2 linked regions of the Homo sapiens genome follow. The protein of the gene in region 1 purifies or fractionates together with the protein of each later gene. This does not show direct contact. Each region holds a gene or a part of one and is shown on either strand. Other genes may lie near its edges.

The links.
Region 2: the proteins of TTC5 (region 1) and TCP11L1 purify together in Homo sapiens (affinity purification with mass spectrometry; 2 studies listed by BioGRID and IntAct, with this or other methods). This does not show direct contact.

What each region holds. Positions count from the first base shown.
Region 1 is NC_000014.9:20,302,192-20,311,980, reverse strand, and holds the start of TTC5 (tetratricopeptide repeat protein 5), read left to right. Parts: upstream 1-6,029; 5' UTR 6,030-6,043; coding exon 6,044-6,094; intron 6,095-9,789. Other genes in the region: E3 ubiquitin-protein ligase CCNB1IP1, read left to right, coding at 229-431. UniProt on the Homo sapiens protein: Cofactor involved in the regulation of various cellular mechanisms such as actin regulation, autophagy, chromatin regulation and DNA repair.
Region 2 is NC_000011.10:33,062,180-33,071,346, reverse strand, and holds part of TCP11L1 (T-complex protein 11-like protein 1), read right to left. Parts: intron 5,518-9,167; coding exon 5,336-5,517; intron 2,661-5,335; coding exon 2,488-2,660; intron 1-2,487.

The sequences.
Region 1 (9,789 bases):
ATGGTATATGCCAATATTTCAGTTATATTTTTTCTAGAATGTTTATTGCAATGTTTTTTTAAAAAAATTCTTAACCTGGGGTAAAAGATTTTATATGTCTGTTTTTTTCTAAGACAAATATTGGAGAAAAAATATATATTCATATATATATATTTGATGATTCCTCTGAAGTAGATTATATAGATAACAAATGAATAAAATTATGTTTTTCCTTTTTTTCTGCCCTAGGTAACAACTCCAAGTTTCCTTTGGATAATACACCTGTTCGAAATCGGGGCGATGGAGATGGAGATTTTCAGTTCAGACCATTTTTTGCGGGTTCTCCCACAGCACCTGAACCCAGCAACAGCTTTTTTAGTTTTGTCTCTCCAAGTCGTGAATTAGAGCAGCAGCAAGTTTCTAGCAGGGCCTTCAAAGTAAAAAGAATTTGAGCCACGCATAGTGTCACGCACCTGTGATCCCAGCTACTTAGGAGGTTGAGGCTGGGAGGATCACTTGAGCCCAGGAGTCTGAGGCTTTAGTGATCTAAGATCATGCCACTGCACTCCAGCCTGGGCAACAGAGTGAGACCCTGTTTCTAAAAAAAAATAAAGATAATTTAGCTAACTTTACAGACTGTTTCTATGTTCATCTTTAGTGATTTCATTTAGCAAATCTTTTTTCTTTTTTTTTTTTTTTTTAACTTTTTTTTTTAATTTTTATTTTTTTTATTGATCATTCTTGGGTGTTTCTCGCAGAGGGGGATTTGGCAGGGTCATAGGACAATAGTGGAGGGAAGGTTGGCAGATAAACAAGTGAACAAAGGTCTCTGGTTTTCCTAGGCAGAGGACCCTGCAGCCTTCCGCAGTGTTTGTGTCCCTGGGTACTTGAGATTAGGGAGTGGTGATGATTCTTAACGAGCATGCTGCCTTCAAGCATCTGTTTAACAAAGCACATCTTGCACCGCCCTTAATCCATTTAACCCTGAGTGGACACAGCACATGTTTCAGAGGGCACAGGGTTGGGGGTAAGGTCACCGATCAACAGGATCCCAAGGCAGAAGAATTTATCTTAGTACAGAACAAAATGAAAAGTCTCCCATGTCTACTTCTTTCTACACAGACACGGCAACCATCCGATTTCTCTATCTTTTCCCCACATTTCCCCCCTTTCTATTCCACAAAACCGCCATTGTCATCCCGGCCCGTTCTCAAAGAGCTGTTGGGTACACCTCCCAGACGAGGTGGTGGCTGGGCAGAGGGGCTCCTCACTTCCTAGTAGGGGTGGCCGGGCAGAGTCGCCCCTCACCTCCCGGACGGGGCGGCTGGCCGGGCGGGGGGCTGACCCCCCCACCTCCCTCCCGGACGGGGCGGCTGGCCGGGCGGGGGGCTGGCCCCCCCACCTCCCTCCCGGACGGGGCGGCTGGCTGGGCAGAGGGGCTCCTCACTTCCCAGTAGGGGCGGCTGGGCAGAGGCGCCCCTCACCTCCTGGACGGGGCAGCTGGCCGGGCGGGGGGCTGACCCCCCCACCTCCCTCCCGGACGGGGCGGCTGGCTGGGCAGAGGGGCTCCTCACTTCCCAGTAGGGGCGGCCGGGCAGAGGCGCCCCTCACCTCCCGGACGGGGCGGCTGGCCGGGTGGGGGGCTGACCCCCCCACCTCCCTCCCGGACGGGGCGGCTGGCCGGGCGGGGGGCTGACTCCCCCACCTCCCTCCTGGACGGGGTGGCTGGCCAGGCAGAGGGGCTCCTCACTTCCCAGTAGGGGCGGCTGGGCAGAGGCGCCCCTCACCTCCCGGACGGGGCGTCTGGCCGGGTGGGGGGCTGACTCCCCCACCTCCCTCCCGGACGGGGCGGCTGCCGGGCGGAGACGCTCCTCACTTCCCAGACGGGGTGGCTGCCGGGCGGAGGGGCTCCTCACTTCTCAGATGGGGCGGATGCTGGGCGGAGGGTCTCCTCACTTCTCAGACGGGGCGGCTGGGCAGAGACGCTCCTCACCTCCCAGACGGGGCGGCGGGGCAGAGGCGCTCCCCACATCTCAGACGATGGGCGGCCGGGCAGAGACGCTCCTCACTTCCCAGACGGGATGGCTGCCAGGAAGAGGCGCTCCTCACTTCCTAGATGGGATGGCGGCCGGTCAGAGACGCTCCTCACTTTCCAGACTGGGCAGCCAGGCAGAGGGGCTCCTCACGTCCCAGACGATGGGCGGCCAGGCAGAGACGCTCCTCACTTCCCAGACGGGGTGGCGGCCGGGCAGAGGCTGCAATCTCGGCACTTTGGGAGGCCAAGGCAGGCGGCTGGGAGATGGAGGTTGTAGCGAGCTGAGATCATGCCACTGCACTCCAGCCTGGGCACCATTGAGCACTGAGTGAACCAGACTCCGTCTGCAATCCCGGCACCTCGGGAGGCCAAGGCTGGCGGATCACTCGCGGTTAGGAGCTGGAGACCAGCCCGGCCAACACAGTGAAACCCCGTCTCCACCAAAAAAGTACGAAAACCAGTCAGGCGTGGTGGCGCGCGCCTGCAATCGCAGGCCCTCGGCAGGCTGAGGCAGGAGAATCAGGCAGGGAGGTTGCAGTGAACCGAGATGGCAGCAGTACAGTCCAGTTTCGGCTCGGCATCAGAGGGAGACAGTGGAAAGAGAGGGAGAGGGAGACCGAGAGGGAGAGGGGAGAGGGGAGAGGGGAGAGGGGAGAGGGGAGAGGGAGAGGGAGAGGCAGAGGCAGAGGCAGGGGCAGGGGCAGGGTAGCAAATCTTTTTTCTAGATAGGACTCCCCAGCTTCTCTGTGCTTTTAAGTCTCTGAAGTTGTTTTCACATTATCAACATAACAAACTCATTGGCAGTGGGGAGTGGTTTAGAGTCTGGTTTCTTTGTTTCTATTATTTAAAGCATAAGCATTTTATTAGTCTCAATTCCATTGTGAACTGCTGAATTTTCATCCCTAGTGTGAGAAGGTCACAATAGTATTTGTTTCAATAGATAACTCTTTCTCCCTGTGCTGTTTCTCACTGAGCTGTGGTGTTTATGCCTTAAGTACCTGTGTTATATGCTACATGTTGCTTTGAATTCTGGTATTTATGCATATCTGTATATGTAAGTATGTTAATGTACACTGATATTTTGCTGTATTTGCCAGTATGTTTATGTGAAAATTTTGGTCTTGGAAAATGGTGGGTGATGTGTAGCTTGTTATTTGGGTGTGTGTATTTATTTGTATATATTTATGTATTTACCTTCGTATTGTTTGGAGGTGTGCTTATGTCAGTGAACGAGAGTACAATTTGATGCATGTATGTTCAGTCCCTATTTGTATTTAAAAATAACTCACGTTGATGAAGTTATTTTTTAAAGTTAATTTTTTTGGCATTTACAGTCGGTGCTCTGTATCCATAGGTTCTGCTTCTGCAGATTCAGCCAACCATATATCAAAAATATTTGAGAAAAAATAATATAAAAAAATACAAATTAAAAACCAATACTATATAACAACTATTTGGATAGCATTTACATTGTAGGTATTATAAATAATTTAGAGGTGATTTAAAGTATTTGGGAGAATCTGTAGGTTATATGCAAATACCATGCCATTTTATAAAAGTGACATGAACATCCAAGGATTTTGGTATCCATGAGGGTTCCTGGAACCAATCCCCCAAAGATACCAAAGGAAGACTGTATTTTAAAATAAAGCTACTTCTTTACCTTTTTGTCAACTATTGCCTTGGGTTTACTTATTTAGGAATGCACTTCTGCAGAAAGTTTACCAATGTGTTATTGATCTCGAGATTGTATTAAAATAAAAGATTTATTTATTGTTTTCCTTTATTTAGTGAGTATTTCTGACTATTATTATGGGAATTAAATTGTTTATGCATTTATTTATTTAAAATGTAGAGCCATGATAGAAATTTGAAGGACATTCTCAGTAACTTTATGTCCTGTTAGAGGAAAGATTTGAAAGCATACTGGCTGGAGAGGCAGAAGATCTGGGTTCTGGTTTCTACTTAGTTTGAACTTTCTTGGACTTAGTCTCTGTATCTGTAAAATGAAGGACTGAATTAAGTTATCCTTACAGCCTTTTCTAACTCTTAAATTTTAGGATTGATTCTTAATGGTTTAAGATGTGTTAACAATGGAATTACCCTAAATGTCAAATCCCATTGTTTTTTAGGTAATAAAAATTATACTGAAATCATTTGAAGATATATTTAGTCATTGTAGAAAGGCAATTAAATACCCCTGCTTTACATAATTGAAAAGCAAGTAGTGTTTCCTTCACTAGGAATATAGAGTATAAAATCTCTTAAAAATTATTCTTAATGTGCACCAAAATTATTTATTACTGTTTTTTTGAGATGGAGTCTTGCTGTGTTGCCCAGGCTGGAGTGCAGTGGCAGCATCTTGGCTCACTGCAACCTCTGCCTCCTGGGTTCAAGTGGTTCTCCTGTCTTGGCCTCCCAAGTAGCTGGGATTACAGGTGCATGCCACCACACCTGGCTAATTTTTGTATCTTTAGTAGAGATGGGGTTTTACCACATTGGCCAGGCTTGTCTTGAACTGACCTCAAGTGATCTGCCCGCCTTGGCCTCCCAAAGTGCTGGGATTACAGGTGTGAGCCACCGTGCCCAGCCTCGTGTGCACCAAAGTTAAAATGTCTGAGAAAGAGGATGAAAAATTTTAAAGTTTTAGGGCCGGGTGTGGTGGCTCACGCCTGTAATCCTAGCACTTTGGGAAGCTGAGGCGGGTGAATCATGAGGTCAGGAGATCGAGACCATCCTGGCTAACACGGTGAAATCCCGTCTCTACTAAAAATACAAAAAATTAGCCGGGCGTGGTGGTATGCACCTGTAGCCCCAGCTACTCGGGAGGCTGAGGCGGGAGAATCGCTTGAACCTGGGAGGCCGAGGTTGCAGTGAGCCGAGATGGCGCCATTGCACTCCAGCCTGGGCTACACAGTGAGACTCCATCTCAAAAAAAAATTTTTAAAACATCCCTCCCTATTTTACAGCTAACGACATAGATTTTATAGGTTACAATACAAACTATTTCCTTTATGTTGGAAAATGATTTGAGGAAATGATTTTATGTATATTCATGATTTCTGCCTTGAACGTTTTACTTCTTTGTTAGTTTCACAGAATCAGCTTGAAGCTGTAATTAAAACTAAAAAAGTAAAGCAAAACTGCCAGGAATATTACATGACACTTTAAAAGATTTATTCAGAAGTTTAATATATTCACAAGGTACAAACTTTAAAGTTACAAAAAAGGCATAGAGTGAAAAGTCTACCCCAGTTCCCTGGTCACTCATTTTTGCTCCAGCCACTCACTTCTGCTCTTTGTAAGCGATAGTCTTGCCAGTGTCTTGTGTCTCTTTCCAGAGACTATGTAGAAGCAAATAATTTTTTATTTAAAAATGTTTATATTTGAATAGGTGATACATATAGATGGCAAGAAAATTCAAAAGGGCAGGCAGTGAAAATTTTCTTCGCTCACCCACAGTTCCCCAGTTTCTGTGTTTCCCTCTGCAGAGACAGTCATCCTTTCTTATATATCCTTCTGGATGTTGTCTATAAATATGGAGGCATTGTTAGTGTAGAGCATGGTGGTTTTTATGAGCCATCCCAAGTGTAGTATTTATTAAGATAGTGCATTAAAATGATAAAATTAATCATACATAGAAAATTACTGCAAAGTTTGGAAAAGATTGAGTAAAGTAGCTATTGTACTACATGGCTTTCGAAATTTCAAACAACACAGGTGTGCACTTCTTAAACTCTCTTCTTTATGGAGTATTATAATCTTAGTATAAATAAGTAGGAAGACATGAAACAAGAATATAGAAATTAAGCTGAGGACATTTTGTTTCCAGGATCTGGGAAAGAAAGAAGTTTATGAACTCACAAGTGATTGTAGAGCATCTCTGTGGAAATAAATGGTTAAGTCGGTTTGAAGCAAAGCCCTTCTGGGGCAGAAAAGCCTCCAGAACGCCAGATGTCGCTGTGGTTCCGCGGTGAGAGAGGGCGTGCGTCTCTGTGGTTATAAAGTTGGGGGTGGAGTGGCCGGGAGATGATGGCTGATGAAGAGGAAGAAGTCAAGCCGATCTTGCAGAAATTGCAGGTGGGGCCGTAGATTAAATTCTGTATGTGTTTTTGTTACTCCGAATGAAGCAGGGAGTCCAGTTTATGTACTGCCCGTGAATTCCTCGGCACACACGCGAAGCTGCGTGCGTCTGTGTGGTTACTATAACAACCCTCGAGGGTGCAGCCGCAGCCAGCCAGGGAGCCTCGTTGGAACCTCCTGCTGCCGACCTGACTGCGGTTAATTTCAGTCCTGTATGGAAGAAGATTTGTTGCTCCTAACTGTTCATGTACATTTTTAGAGAGGACGTTGTTTTCTCGATTCATCCATAGCGAATAGCATATACATGTGTGTGGCAGATCTGCATGAACTACTGTCACATGTTGTTTTGATCCCTACAAAAGCCATTTAACACCTTTCTGCTTTGAATTTGGCAACAATCACGCTAATGACCTGCACTGCAAGTGTCCTGGTTACTCCCCTTAGGATTTCAGTTTTGATTTCTTTCAACCTGTGTAATTCCACTTTGGGGTCTGATGCAGAGGGGTCCAGACTCCACATAGTCCACAGGTAAGACTAGTCTTTTGGACTTGGTAGGGAGGCGTTAACTAGTTGCTTGGCTCTTTGCCTTTAAGAACCCATGATTTTCCTTACACCTCAGGAACTCAGTTCTTCGTTCTAAGGCAGCCTGTAACTTAAATATTAGAACTATGACAGGCTTGTAACTTGCCTAAAGGTGTTTAACGCACAAATTTAAATACTGGTGAAATTTCTTTGTTCTTGGGTACATTAAAATAGTAACACTTTTTAGAGTGTTCCAGCTGATTTGGATTAACTTCATTTTATTCCCTAACTGTGACTGGCTGAAATCAGAGATTCTCAATTCTGGTTCTATATTAGAAACATTATTTGTGTATATATGTTTGTATATGCACAGAAAAAAATCTGAAAAGGTATACAAATCAGTGGTTATCACTGAGGTTCTTTGGGGTAATTTTGTACTTTCTTTTTTTTACATGTATCTATTTGAATTTTAACAACTTACATGTATTGATTTTGCCATGAAAAAATAAGTTTCTAAAAACATTCAGTCCAGAGGAAAACAAAACCAAACAATAAAACCAAACAACTTCTTGAATGTTTGGTTTAACAACTAAAACCAATCAATAAGCCCTTCTCTAAAACTCTTAATTTGCAGCCATGTTGATTGCAGGACAAAAGGAAATTGGTTGTAATTTTTTATGAGAATTGTCTTTTCCTAGGTTCATTTGTGGTAAATGTCCTAAGCAGCTTGGGAGAGGATACTTCCGTTATCTTGGGGTGGGGTCGGTGCAGGAATGGAATAAAGGAGTGAAGTAGAGAAGAGGAAAAGGATTAGATAATGGTGTTGCTGTTCATGGAGATGGTGGTAAACTTTGATTTCATTGTTAAAGACATTTTAGTGTAAAAAGAGTGTATAAATGGATATTTCTCAAAGTGTGTTTTACAGACAGTTTCATTACAGTCATCTGGGGTGCCTGTTAAAAATGTAGAATTTTGAGTTCTGCTAAACTGTTAAAATCAGAGTCTCTGCAGGCTGGGTCTTGGATATAATACAATAAAATTTGCAGAGGGTGCTAGTCTGTTCCCTTCATTCTGGATAGGATTTTAAATTAAGTATAGCACATATGTATTTGTTAGAACAGGGATAGTTAGTTAGTTAATTCAATCAAGTGTAGTGAATTAGAGCCTATCATGTCCCAAGTCCCGTTCTGGTGCTCAGGTGTAGCTCGAAACAAAACAGATTAAAGGCCTTTCCATCCTGGAGCTTACATTTCAGTGGTGGAGGCAGACAATAGACAATTAATGATAGGCCACATGATTTTAAATAAGTATGAAGAAAAATAAGAGTATGATATAACAGTAGAGGAGAGAAGGAATGGATTCATTTGGGTTGAGTAATTAGGGAAAACCTTTCTGGAATTGATATTTGACCTAAGATCTAAATGATGATGAGGAATAAGTTATGCAGAGATCTGGAGAAAGTGTCCAGGCATAAGGTCTTCCAGGTGGGCTGAGCTTGATGGGTTTGAGAAACTGCATGAAGGCAACTCTGGCTTGAGTATTGTAGGAGAGAGAATGGTGAGAGGTGAAGTTTGTGTCAGGATGGGTGGTGGTAGGTCAGCTCATACAGTCTTCTAGGTCATGATAAGGACTTGGATTTTATTCTGTCTGCAATGGGAAACTATTTGAAGGTTTGTGATATGATGTACGTTTTTTATAAGATCACTCCCACTACAGTGAGGAGAATGGGAGAGAACAGAAACAAGATGACTGGTTAAGAAGCTCTTGCAGTCCAGGCAAGTAATGAAGCTGATGTAATCCAGGAATGGTCATAGTGGGATGGAGACAGGTGGATGAATTCAGGATGTGTTGTGAAGATTGTTGATTACACTCGAAGGGAAGTGATTATATCTTTCTGCTGCTATCTATTTAGTTTCAGGAAAGAATAGGATATCTGTTATCTGAAATGCTTAGGACTCGAAGTTTTTTGGATTTTGGATTTTTTTGAATTTTGGAATATCTGCATATACATAATGAGATAACTTGGGGATGGGACCCAAATCTAAATATGAAACTTGGTGGCTTATGCCTGTAGTCCCAGCACTTTGGGAGGCTGAGGTGGGAGCATTGCTTGAAATCAGGAGTTTGAGACCAGCCTGGGCAACCTACGAGACTCTTTTTTTTTTTTTTTTGAGACGGAGTCTTGCTCTGTTGCCAGGCTGGAGGGCAGTGGCATGATCTTGGCTCACTGCAACCTCTGCCTCCCAGGTTCAAGCGATTCTCCTGCCTCAGCCTCCCGAGTAGGTGGGACTACAGGTGTGCGCCACCATGCCTGGCTAATTTTTGTATTTTTAGTAGAGACCGGGTTTCACCATGATGGCCAGGATGGTTTCGATCTCTTCATGATCCGTCTGCCTTGGACTACCAAAGTGCTAGGATTACAGGCATGAGCCACCACGCCTGGTGACCCTGTCTTTTAAAAAAGAAAAAAAAAAAATTGTTTCATTTACACTTTATACACATAGGCTGAAAGTAATTTGATACAATATTTTTAATAATTTTGTGCCTGAAACAACGTTTTGACCGCATTTTGACTGTGTGTCAGGTGTGGAATTTTCTACTTGTGGTGTCAGCGTTTCAAAAGTTTCAGATTTTGGAGGATTTCAGATTTTTGCATTAGGGATGCTTGACCTGTAGTAGAAAAGCTTTGCCTGGTGTGACAGGAAGACTCAGAGGCATTTAAGAGGAAAGAGAATATTTATTTGTAAAAAATCCAAGGCAGCCAGAAGATGACTTGACAAAAAAATCAAACTAAACAAAACCACAATAAGCATTTAAAAGAACAAAATGCTGCAAAGATACCAAAGTTACCAAGTTCAAATTGGTATGTTTGTGGTGGAAAACAATGACTCTCTAACATGTTTATTATATTCACAAAGGTTGTGTTGTATTTTCAGATCTCAGCATATGAAAAATCAGGGATAAAATGGTTTTAGTTGAGAAGTCCAACTTTAAGGGTAAATTTCAAAGTGTTATTCTTTGAGGACCAGGACCATATAGAATGATCTTACTAACTTTTGGTTTATCTTAAGTTGCAGTGTTTCCCTCCTCATGACTGTGGTATGTGAAGTGCTTAGTCATATTAGAAGCCCTGCTGAGGCAGGGAGAGAAAATGGTCATCACAATAGAGA
Region 2 (9,167 bases), on another chromosome or scaffold:
CAGGGCCTAACACCCTTACTCTTTTTTTTTCTCGAGACACAGTTTCACTCTGTCGCCCAGGCTGCAGTGCAGTGGCACAATCTCAGCTCACTACACCTCCGCCTCCCGAGTTCAAGCGATTCTCCCCACTCTGCCTCCCGAGTAGCTGGGATTACAGGCGCATGCCACCATGCCCAGCTAATTTTTGTATTATTAGTAGAGGCGGGGTTTCACCATGTTGCCCGGGCTGGTCTTGAATTCCTGACCTCAAGTGATCCGTCTGCCCCCGCCTCCCAAAGTGCTGGAACTACAGGAGTGAGCCACTGCACCCAGCCCTATCACCCTTCTTCTTTTTTTTTTCTTTTTTGAGATGGAGTTTCCCTCGTCTCCCAGGCTGGAGTGCAGTGGCGCGATCTCGGCTCACTGCAACCCCCGCCTCCTGGGTTCAAGTGACTCTCCTGCCTCAGCCTTCCGAGTACCTGGGATTACAGGCACACGCCACCATGCCCAGGAAATTTTTGTATTTTTTGTAGAGACGGGGTTTCACCATGTTGGCCAGGCTGGTCTCAAACTCCTGACCTCAGGTAATCTGCCCACCTTGGCCTCCCAAATGCTGGGATTACAGGCATGAGTCATCACACCTGGCCCTATCACCCTTATTCTTTTTTTTTTTTTTTTTTTTGAGACAGACTTTAGCTCTTATTGCCCAGGCTGGAGTGCAATGGCACAATCTCGGCTCACCACAATCTCCACCTTTCAGGTTCAAGCGATTATCCTGCCTCAGCCTCTCAAGTAGCTAGCATCACAGGCATGCACCACCATGCCTGGCTAATTTCGCATTTTTAGTAAAGGCGGAGTTTCTACATGTTGGTCAGCCTGGTCTCGAACTTCCAATCTCAGGTGAACTGCCCGGCTCGGCCTCCCAAAATGTTGGGATTATAGGCATGAGCCACTGTGCTCAGCACCCTTATTCTTAAGTTAGTTTGGTTCTCTAAGGTTCCCAGGGCTGGCAGCCTCACTGAAGTAGAAATCTTTGTATTGTTCCTACCCAAAGACTGGTTTTTCTTTTCTTTCTTTCTTTCTTTTAGAAACAGGGTCTTGCTCTGTCACCCAGGCTGGAGTGCAGTGGTGAAATTGTAGCTCACTGCAGCCTCAAACTCCTGGGCTCAAGTGATCCTCCTGCCTCAGCCTCCCGAGTAGCAAGGACTACAGATGCATGTCACTAACCTGGCTAATTTTTTTTTTTTAATTTTTTGTAGAGATGGGGTCTCACTATGCTGCCCAGATAGTCTCGAACTCCTGGTTTTAAGTGATCCTCCCCTTAAGGGCTGGTTTTCAATCTGTCGGTAACTGGCTATTACAAAACAACCCAGGCAGCAGGATGAGTAGCAACTTGCTGGCCACAGGTCTACTTACAGGCACTTTCCTGCCTCCCTATGAAGGTTGTGAGTATAAATCTTGGCTGGATGCAGTGGTTCGTGCCTGTTAACCCCAGCACTTTGGGAGGCTGAGGCAGGCGGATCACTTGAGTCCAGGAATTTGAGACCAGCCTGGCCAACAAGGCAAAACCCCATCTTTAGAAGATATACAAAAAATTAGCTGGGTGTGGTGGTGCATGCCTGTAGTCCCAGCTACTTGGGAGTCTGAAGTGGGAGGACTGCTTGAGCCTGGGAGGTGGAGCACAGAGGTGGAGTGCAGTGAGCCGAGATCGCATCACTGCACTCCAGTCTGGAAGACAGAGTGAGACCCTGTCTCAAAAACAAACAAACAAAACTATGTATTCACAGCATACAGCATGATGTTTTAAATGTATGTATATACTACAAAATGATTAAGTCGAGCTAATTAACAGAATTTTTCATAAAGCCATTGCTGTGATAACTAATAGCTAATATTATAGAATATTTTAAATATTTTATAGAATATGCATTAAAATATTTTAATACTTCAAGTTTATTATAAATTTTAAATAGCAATATCTTAATATTACCATTTTAAGTTATTATATTTGATATGTTAATAGTATTACATACTAATATTTAATAATATTTTAATAGTATTTTTAAATAACATCTTCATTTTACTATTCAGCTCTTTTCGTAACAGCTCCTATTTACTGAGCACTTACTATGTGCTGCCAGGCACTACGGAAAGCGCTTCACCTTCTCATCCCAGGGAGTTCCTGCAGCGACCTTGTAAGGTTGCTGCCCTTATTCCTGCTTTAGAGATGAGGAAACTCGAGTGTCAAGTTACACGCCCAAGCTGCCCTGGGACACTGCTTGTGAACCCAGGAGAGTGATTCCAAGGTTGCAGCCCTTAGAACAATGATGGCTGCCTGGTCCTGTGCCCATCTGTTGGGTGGCCCTGGTCTCTCTGTGGTGCTTCATTACACCATCTCCTCACCCATCAGCACCTTAACTCCAGCTGAGCCCTCAGGTTTCTTCAGATGGACTCGTGCTCCAGCCCCTCAGAGGGCACATCCCTGCTGCCTGCCTTCCCCAAACGTACCCATGATCCTGCGAATGGGGTCATCGGGACTGGCCACGGCCTGGATCTGGCCCTTGAGCACGGTCTCCTTGTCCGTGGTGAAGGGAGAGGACCCACACAGGGAGAGGCAGCTGCTCACCTCCAGGCACACCTTCTCCCCGATGGTAGTGAGGACGTCCTTCAGATGGAAGGAGCTGGGGCAGAGGAGGGGAGAAAGGGCCTATAAGTAAAATACACCTCTAACCAGCTCCAACCGCCCACACCCGGGTGAGAATGACGGCACCAATAACTGGATTTGTGTGTTCAAGGGACAATTTGAGACTCTTTTCCCTGCCACCTTACCTCTCAGGCTGTGCATACCTGACCAGGGGGACTTTCTTTCTCTCCCTCTGCTAGAAAGGACAGTGGGAAGGGCAGGGGCTCAGAGTATACCAGGACCAACGACCCAAAGCACAACTTCCTGCTAGCCTCTGTGTGATAAAATCAGCCTGGAATGACCTCAGAATATCTTGATATACCTCTGGAGGAATACACAAGAAAGCAGGCATTTGGTAGCTGTGGGACAAGAGGGAGAGAGAAACTCTTCATTGGATGCCCTTTTGTACCTTTTGATTTTTGAAACATACACATGTATTAACTAATTTTAAAAGAATAAAGAGGCCGGGCTCAGTGGCTCACGCCTATAATCCCAGAACTTTGGGAGGCCAAGGCAGATGGATCAGGAGTTCTAGGTCAGGAGTTCAAGACCAGCCTGGCCAACATGGTGAAACCCCATCTCTACTAAAAATACAAAAAGATTAGCTGGGCATGGTGATAGGTGCCTGTAATCCCAGCTACTCAGGAGACTGTGGTAGGAGAATCACTTGAATCCAGGAAGTGGACGCCGAGATCACGTCATTGCACTCCAGCCTGGGCAACAAGAGTGAAACTCCATCACAAAAAAATAAAAAAATATATAAAAATTAAAAAATTTTTAAAAAATAAAAGAATAACGAAAAGTGAAATCCTAAAGTTAAAAAAAAAGAGTACCTGGATACCCTGGGTCCCCCAGGCTCTCCCAGGGTGCCTGTGGGGAGCCCCCATGCTGGCAGGCATGCTGTGAGAAGGTAACTGCCTCTGTTGTGGGTCTAGATCCTTTGTATGTAGAATTACTGGGGGGCATGGGAGCAAGCCCTGGCACTCACCATTGGCACCAGCTCTGTGCCCACCCCTGGAGGACCAGGGAGGATATGGGAGTGCAAGGCTGGGCTCCCAAGAAAGCACTGACCTGGATCCCACCCTCAGCGGGAGCTTTGACAGAGTAGTTCTCCAGGCAGGGGACCTAGGTGACAGCCCAGAGCTGTACCTGTGCAAAGGCCTCAGGCTAGGCCCTCAGCTGAGCAAACAAGTTTCCTGGCCTCTCAGCAAACTAGTTTGACTGTCAAAACTGTTGAGGCCCTAGTCACAACTTACGGACACGCCCCACACTGCACTGAACACAGCCATGCTTTGTGAAAATTCAGCAGTAAAATTCCTCCATTTTGTAAGGATGAGAATGTTTAGGGGGTACTTCCCTTGAAGAAGTCTCTGAATTGGACCTTGTTAGATAGAGCATTTACTTAGAACCACTCAAAGATATTCTATAGGCTGGAAACCATAGAAGTCACCCAACATGACTCCATGGTAGGAGCGGTCACTGAAGCCTGCACGCGTGCAGATGCGGACTCGTGCTGGGTAAGAAAATGATGCATTACACTGAGCACAGAACGCCTACAGGGAACAAGCAAGGGCAGAACACTTCAACCACATACATGCAGCTCTGCAGGAATATAGCTGGTTTCTCTCATGACCTTCCTCTAGGGCTCTGCTTTTCACTGTTAGTCGGTTATGAAAGCAATTCAGTGGGTAGCAACCAATTTTTTTTTTTAATGGAATAAGAATAGAGTAGAAACAATCAGGCTGCATTAAACACAGTTAGGGTCAGTTCCAGTTTGAGAAGTTTTCGTTTCTGTTACACGTGTGTTAAGTGTGTACTAGGTCACAATGGAAAATGAATTTCTTACTGCAGGTCCTAGTCACAAACATTTTTGTCCCAATTAATGTCTCTGGGTTCCAGTTTCTTCATAAGCTCCAGTAAGAGTTTAATACATTTGAATGGCTTTGGGAGAGGAATAAAGCACTCAACAAACAAACACAAGAACCTTGGAGGTCAGGAGACAAAGACAACCCCATTAAAGAAGGAAGGGGTCAGACAGCATCCTGCTCCCTGCGTAGGGAGAACAAATGAGTTGATGGCACTCAACACCGAGCCAGGCCCCGGGAGGAGCATGCTAACAGGGAATGGAGGGCCGCGGGACCTCTAAGCCCGGGATCTCCAATTCCTCAAGGCAAGCAACCATTGGTACCAGCGCTCCCCACCCTGCTCATGGCTTACCCCCCAGCCCGAGCCACTTCTTCTCTCGCCTCCTAAATGCTCCCTCACATCTACTATGTGCCCCATGCCAAAATTTAAACTTAAGGGCATAAATCTAATTACGTTCCCCCTCTTGCTTCAAATCCTTCAATGGCTCCCTACTGCTCTTAGGACAATAACCCAACTCCTTGGTGTGGCCTCTAAGGCCCGACAGGCTACTCGGCTAGTCACACACATTTTGAAGCCACTATCCTAGAGCTCTGCTAACCCTGCAGCAGATTCTAACTTTGACCCTATGACCCTAAATAAACTCTGCTGGGGTCTTCGCCAAGTGAACCAACTGAGACAGCAAGGTTTCTTCTCAGTTCCTAGAGAGTGGCCCTGGGCTCTGCCTTACAGTGGGAGACCCCTCTGGGAGACTCCAGTCGGCTCTCTGACATCCACTGCGTCCCATCCACGCATCAAAGTTCCACTTACGGCAGGTGCATATCTGTTAGCAAAATCTTCACAATCATCTTGAGTTTCTCAGCAAAGTCGGCCTGGCTGGAAATTCCTGGCGCTGCCATGCTGAAGGTGACCAGCAACACAGCCCCCAGGATGGTCAGTTGTTCCAGCTGCAACTGGAGCTCGTGGAAGCGAGACTGGTCCATTAAAACTGTCTGTAATGAATAGAAGAGGCCATCGCTGAGCTGCAGGTCCAGGTTGGCCAGCAGAGGGCGGGAGCGCCACAGCCCCCACACCTGCCTCTGCAGCTTCCCTCAGGGTTTGCGCTAGTGTGTCAGAGCTTTGAGGGAGTCTGGTGTGAAATAACCCCTCTATCTCAGAGCCGTTCCTCCTGAGCAAGGATGCAGTATAGCGCCCTCACTAAGAACACAGACAGGCCTGGGTGTAAAGCCAGGCTCCGTGCTTAATACCATGACCTCCCCGGCTGGCCGCGGTGGCTCACGCCTGTAATCCCAGCGCTTTGGGAGGCCGAGGTGGGCAGATCACCTGAGGTCAGGAGTTCAAGACCAGCCTGACCAACATGGTAAAACCCCATCTCTACTAAAAATACAAAACTAGCCGGGTGTGGTGGTGCATGCCTATAATACCAGCTACTCGGGAGGATGAGGCAGGAGAATCTCTTGAACCCAGGAAGCAGAGGTTGCAGTGAGCTGAGATTGCACCTTGGTACTTCAGCCTGGGCAACAAGAGTGAAACTCCTTCTCAAAAAAAAAAATAGCATGACCTCATGCATGCATCCCCAACTTTGTCGGGCCTCTGCAGAATGGGGACTCCCACATCACAGGGCTGTTTTAAAGCTGAAGAAAGATGCTACATATAAAGTGGCTGGCAGAGCCAGCACTCGATAAATAAAAGTTATACTTATTGTTAGGAAGAAAAGTATAATGAGGCACAGACCTAGGGTCACCAACTCCTCCCAGTTTGTCTGGGACTGTCCCAGTTTTCAAATGGAAATTCCCAAGTCCTGTGAACCCTCACTCAGTCCCTAGCAAACTAGGACAGCCAGTCACCCTGTACAGAGCAATGGAAGGCCAGGTGCGATGGTGGGTGCCTGCAGTCCCAGCTACTGGGAGGCTCAGGCAGGAAGATCACTGAGGCCGGAATTTCGAGGCTGCAGTGCACTACGATTATGCCTGTGAATAGCCACTACACTGCAGCTTGGACAACATAGTGAGACTCCATCTTAAAACAACAACAACAAAAATCCCAGAGCAATGGAAGGGAGGACTGCCTTGCAGGCAGAGCCTACACTTATTCATCTTGGTATCCGCTCAGCACCCAGCACAAAGGAAGCTTGTAAGAACTGGCGAGTAAATAAAGAGGAAGAGAAAGAAACAGGAAGCACAGAGAGTAGAAGTGACAGAGAACAATCTAAAGCCTCCCGGAAAGCAAGCACATTCCCATGACTGCCTCCCCCATGTTAAAGACAGTCCTGGGTCCTACCATGCCAGCGCCCCCACCCGTGTGGCTGAGGGAAGGAGAAGGGAAAGGCTGCACAGATGGGAATCTGATCTGAGAGTTTACAGGCTCATCGAATGGACTCTAAGGACCTTTCTTGCTGTCAGAAACTGAGATTTGCCAAGTCAAGACATGAACAATGTGGGTCACAGCCAAGAAGTAAAAACCCTGAGGATTGAGAATCCTCTGCTGATACAAATACAATCCCAAGGACTCATCGTCGGCCTGTTTTCTGACTTCACATGGCTTTGTGGCTTCCCAACAGCAGGACGTGAGTTTAGGATGCAGATTGCCAAGGATCAATTCCTGGAGTAGACAGCTGTCCCCAGGGACCATCACCATCTTCCCCACAGCGTTTCTTTTCTTTTCTTTTCTATTTATTTTTTTTACGAGAGGGTTTATTCATAAGACTGCCAAGTGAGGAGGCTGGAGAACAGGTCTCACATCCCCCTCTCCATAGAGAGGGCTTAGGGATATTTATGGGATGAAGAAGCAGGGGTATCTAAGGCCTGGGGAAGATGATCAGCGGTGGGGAAAAGGGAGGTATTGGATGGTCTCCCACAGCTATTTTTAAATAGACATGTCAGGCTGAGAACTTCCCTCCAGAAGAGAACATGCCACAGTTCAAAGGGAACATTTTCCCATCTCCAATTTGACATTCTCTTTAGAGCTTCCTCCAGCACAAAACGGGGAACTCAGAGGCAAGAGGTGAAACCTTAAGCTCACAACTTCTTGAAAGGAAAAATAAGGAACTTATAAGAAAGATATTTAGAGAAGTATCTGGATCTGAGGCTAGTGATAAGAAGCTCACGTACCCCCCAAAAAGAGAGGGGGAGTCTACATAACAAAACAGCTATTTAGAGAAACACTGGGGGAATCCCTTCTTAGTCATCTTCTTAAAGAGGTCTTGCAGTTAGAAGTATGTATTGTGAAAAACATAAAAAGAAAAAAATATTGTTCAGCATGGAAGGGGAAGAAGTTTCTTTAGATAAAGCTGTGAACAACCACACCTCTGTTGTGGTTTCCATCAAGATGAGTAAAAACAGGAGAAAAATTCAGCAGCACAGACTGGAGCCTCATACATTGCTGGTGGGATGGTAAAATGATGCAGCTGCTTTGGAAATCAGTTTGGCAGTTCCTCAAAATGTTAAACTTAAGAGTCACCATGTAACCCAGCAATTCTAATCCTAGGTACGTAACCAAGAGAGGTAAAAACATATGTCCATGCAAAAACTTGTACTGGAATATTCACAGAAGCATAATTTATAATAACAACCCAAATGTTTGTCAACTGATGAATGAATAAACAAAATGTGGTACATCCATACAGTAAAATATATTATTCAGCCTAAAAAAGAAAGGAGGGCTGGGCATGGTAGCTCATGCCTGTAATCCCAACACTGGGAGGCCAAGGAGGGAGGACCACTTGAGGCCAGGAGTTTAAGATCAGCCTGAGTAACATAGCGAGACCCCTGTCTCCACAAAAAACACACTTAAAAATTAGCTGGGGGTGGTGGTACACTCTTGTAGTCCTAGCTACCCAGGAGGCTGAGGCAGGAGGATCACTTGGGCCCTGAAGTTCAAAGTTACAGTGAGCTGTCGTACCACCTAGCCTGAGCAATTCAATGAGACCCTGTCTCTAAAATTTAAAAAAATTTTAAAAAACCCAGAAAGGGAACACTGACACATACTACAACATAAATGAACCTTGAAGACATTATGCTAAGTAAAATAAGCCAGACCCAAAAGGACAAAGATTGTATAATTCCACTCATATTAAGTACCCGGATTAGTCCAATTCACAGAGACTCAAAGTAGAATGGTGGCTGCCAGGGGCCAGAGGGCGGGGGCAATGGGAATTACTGTTTGGTGTGTTTGGTGGGAAGACAGTTTCACAGAAGGAAAAATGAAAATGTTTTGGAGGTGGCTGGTGGCAATGGTTGCACAACAATGTGGATGCACTTAATGCCACTGAACTGGACAACTAGAAATGGTTAAAATGGTAAATTTTATGTTATGTGTATTTTACCACAACAACAAAAAAAACACAGTGGAAAAGAGGACTAAACTACTGCTATATGTGCTACAACGTGAAAAAACATTGGTGAAAGAAGCCAGGCACAAAAGGCTGGTAGTGTATGATTTCATTTAAATAAAATGTCCAGGATAGGCAAATCCATAGAGACAGAAAGCAGATCTGTGGCTTCAGGCGTTGGAGGGAGGGGGGGAGGGCAGTGACCGCTGATGGATGCAGCGTTTCTATTGGAGGTGATGAAAATGTTCTCAATTAAACAGTGGCAATGGATGCGTAACTCTGTGACTATACTAGAAAACACTGAGTTGTACA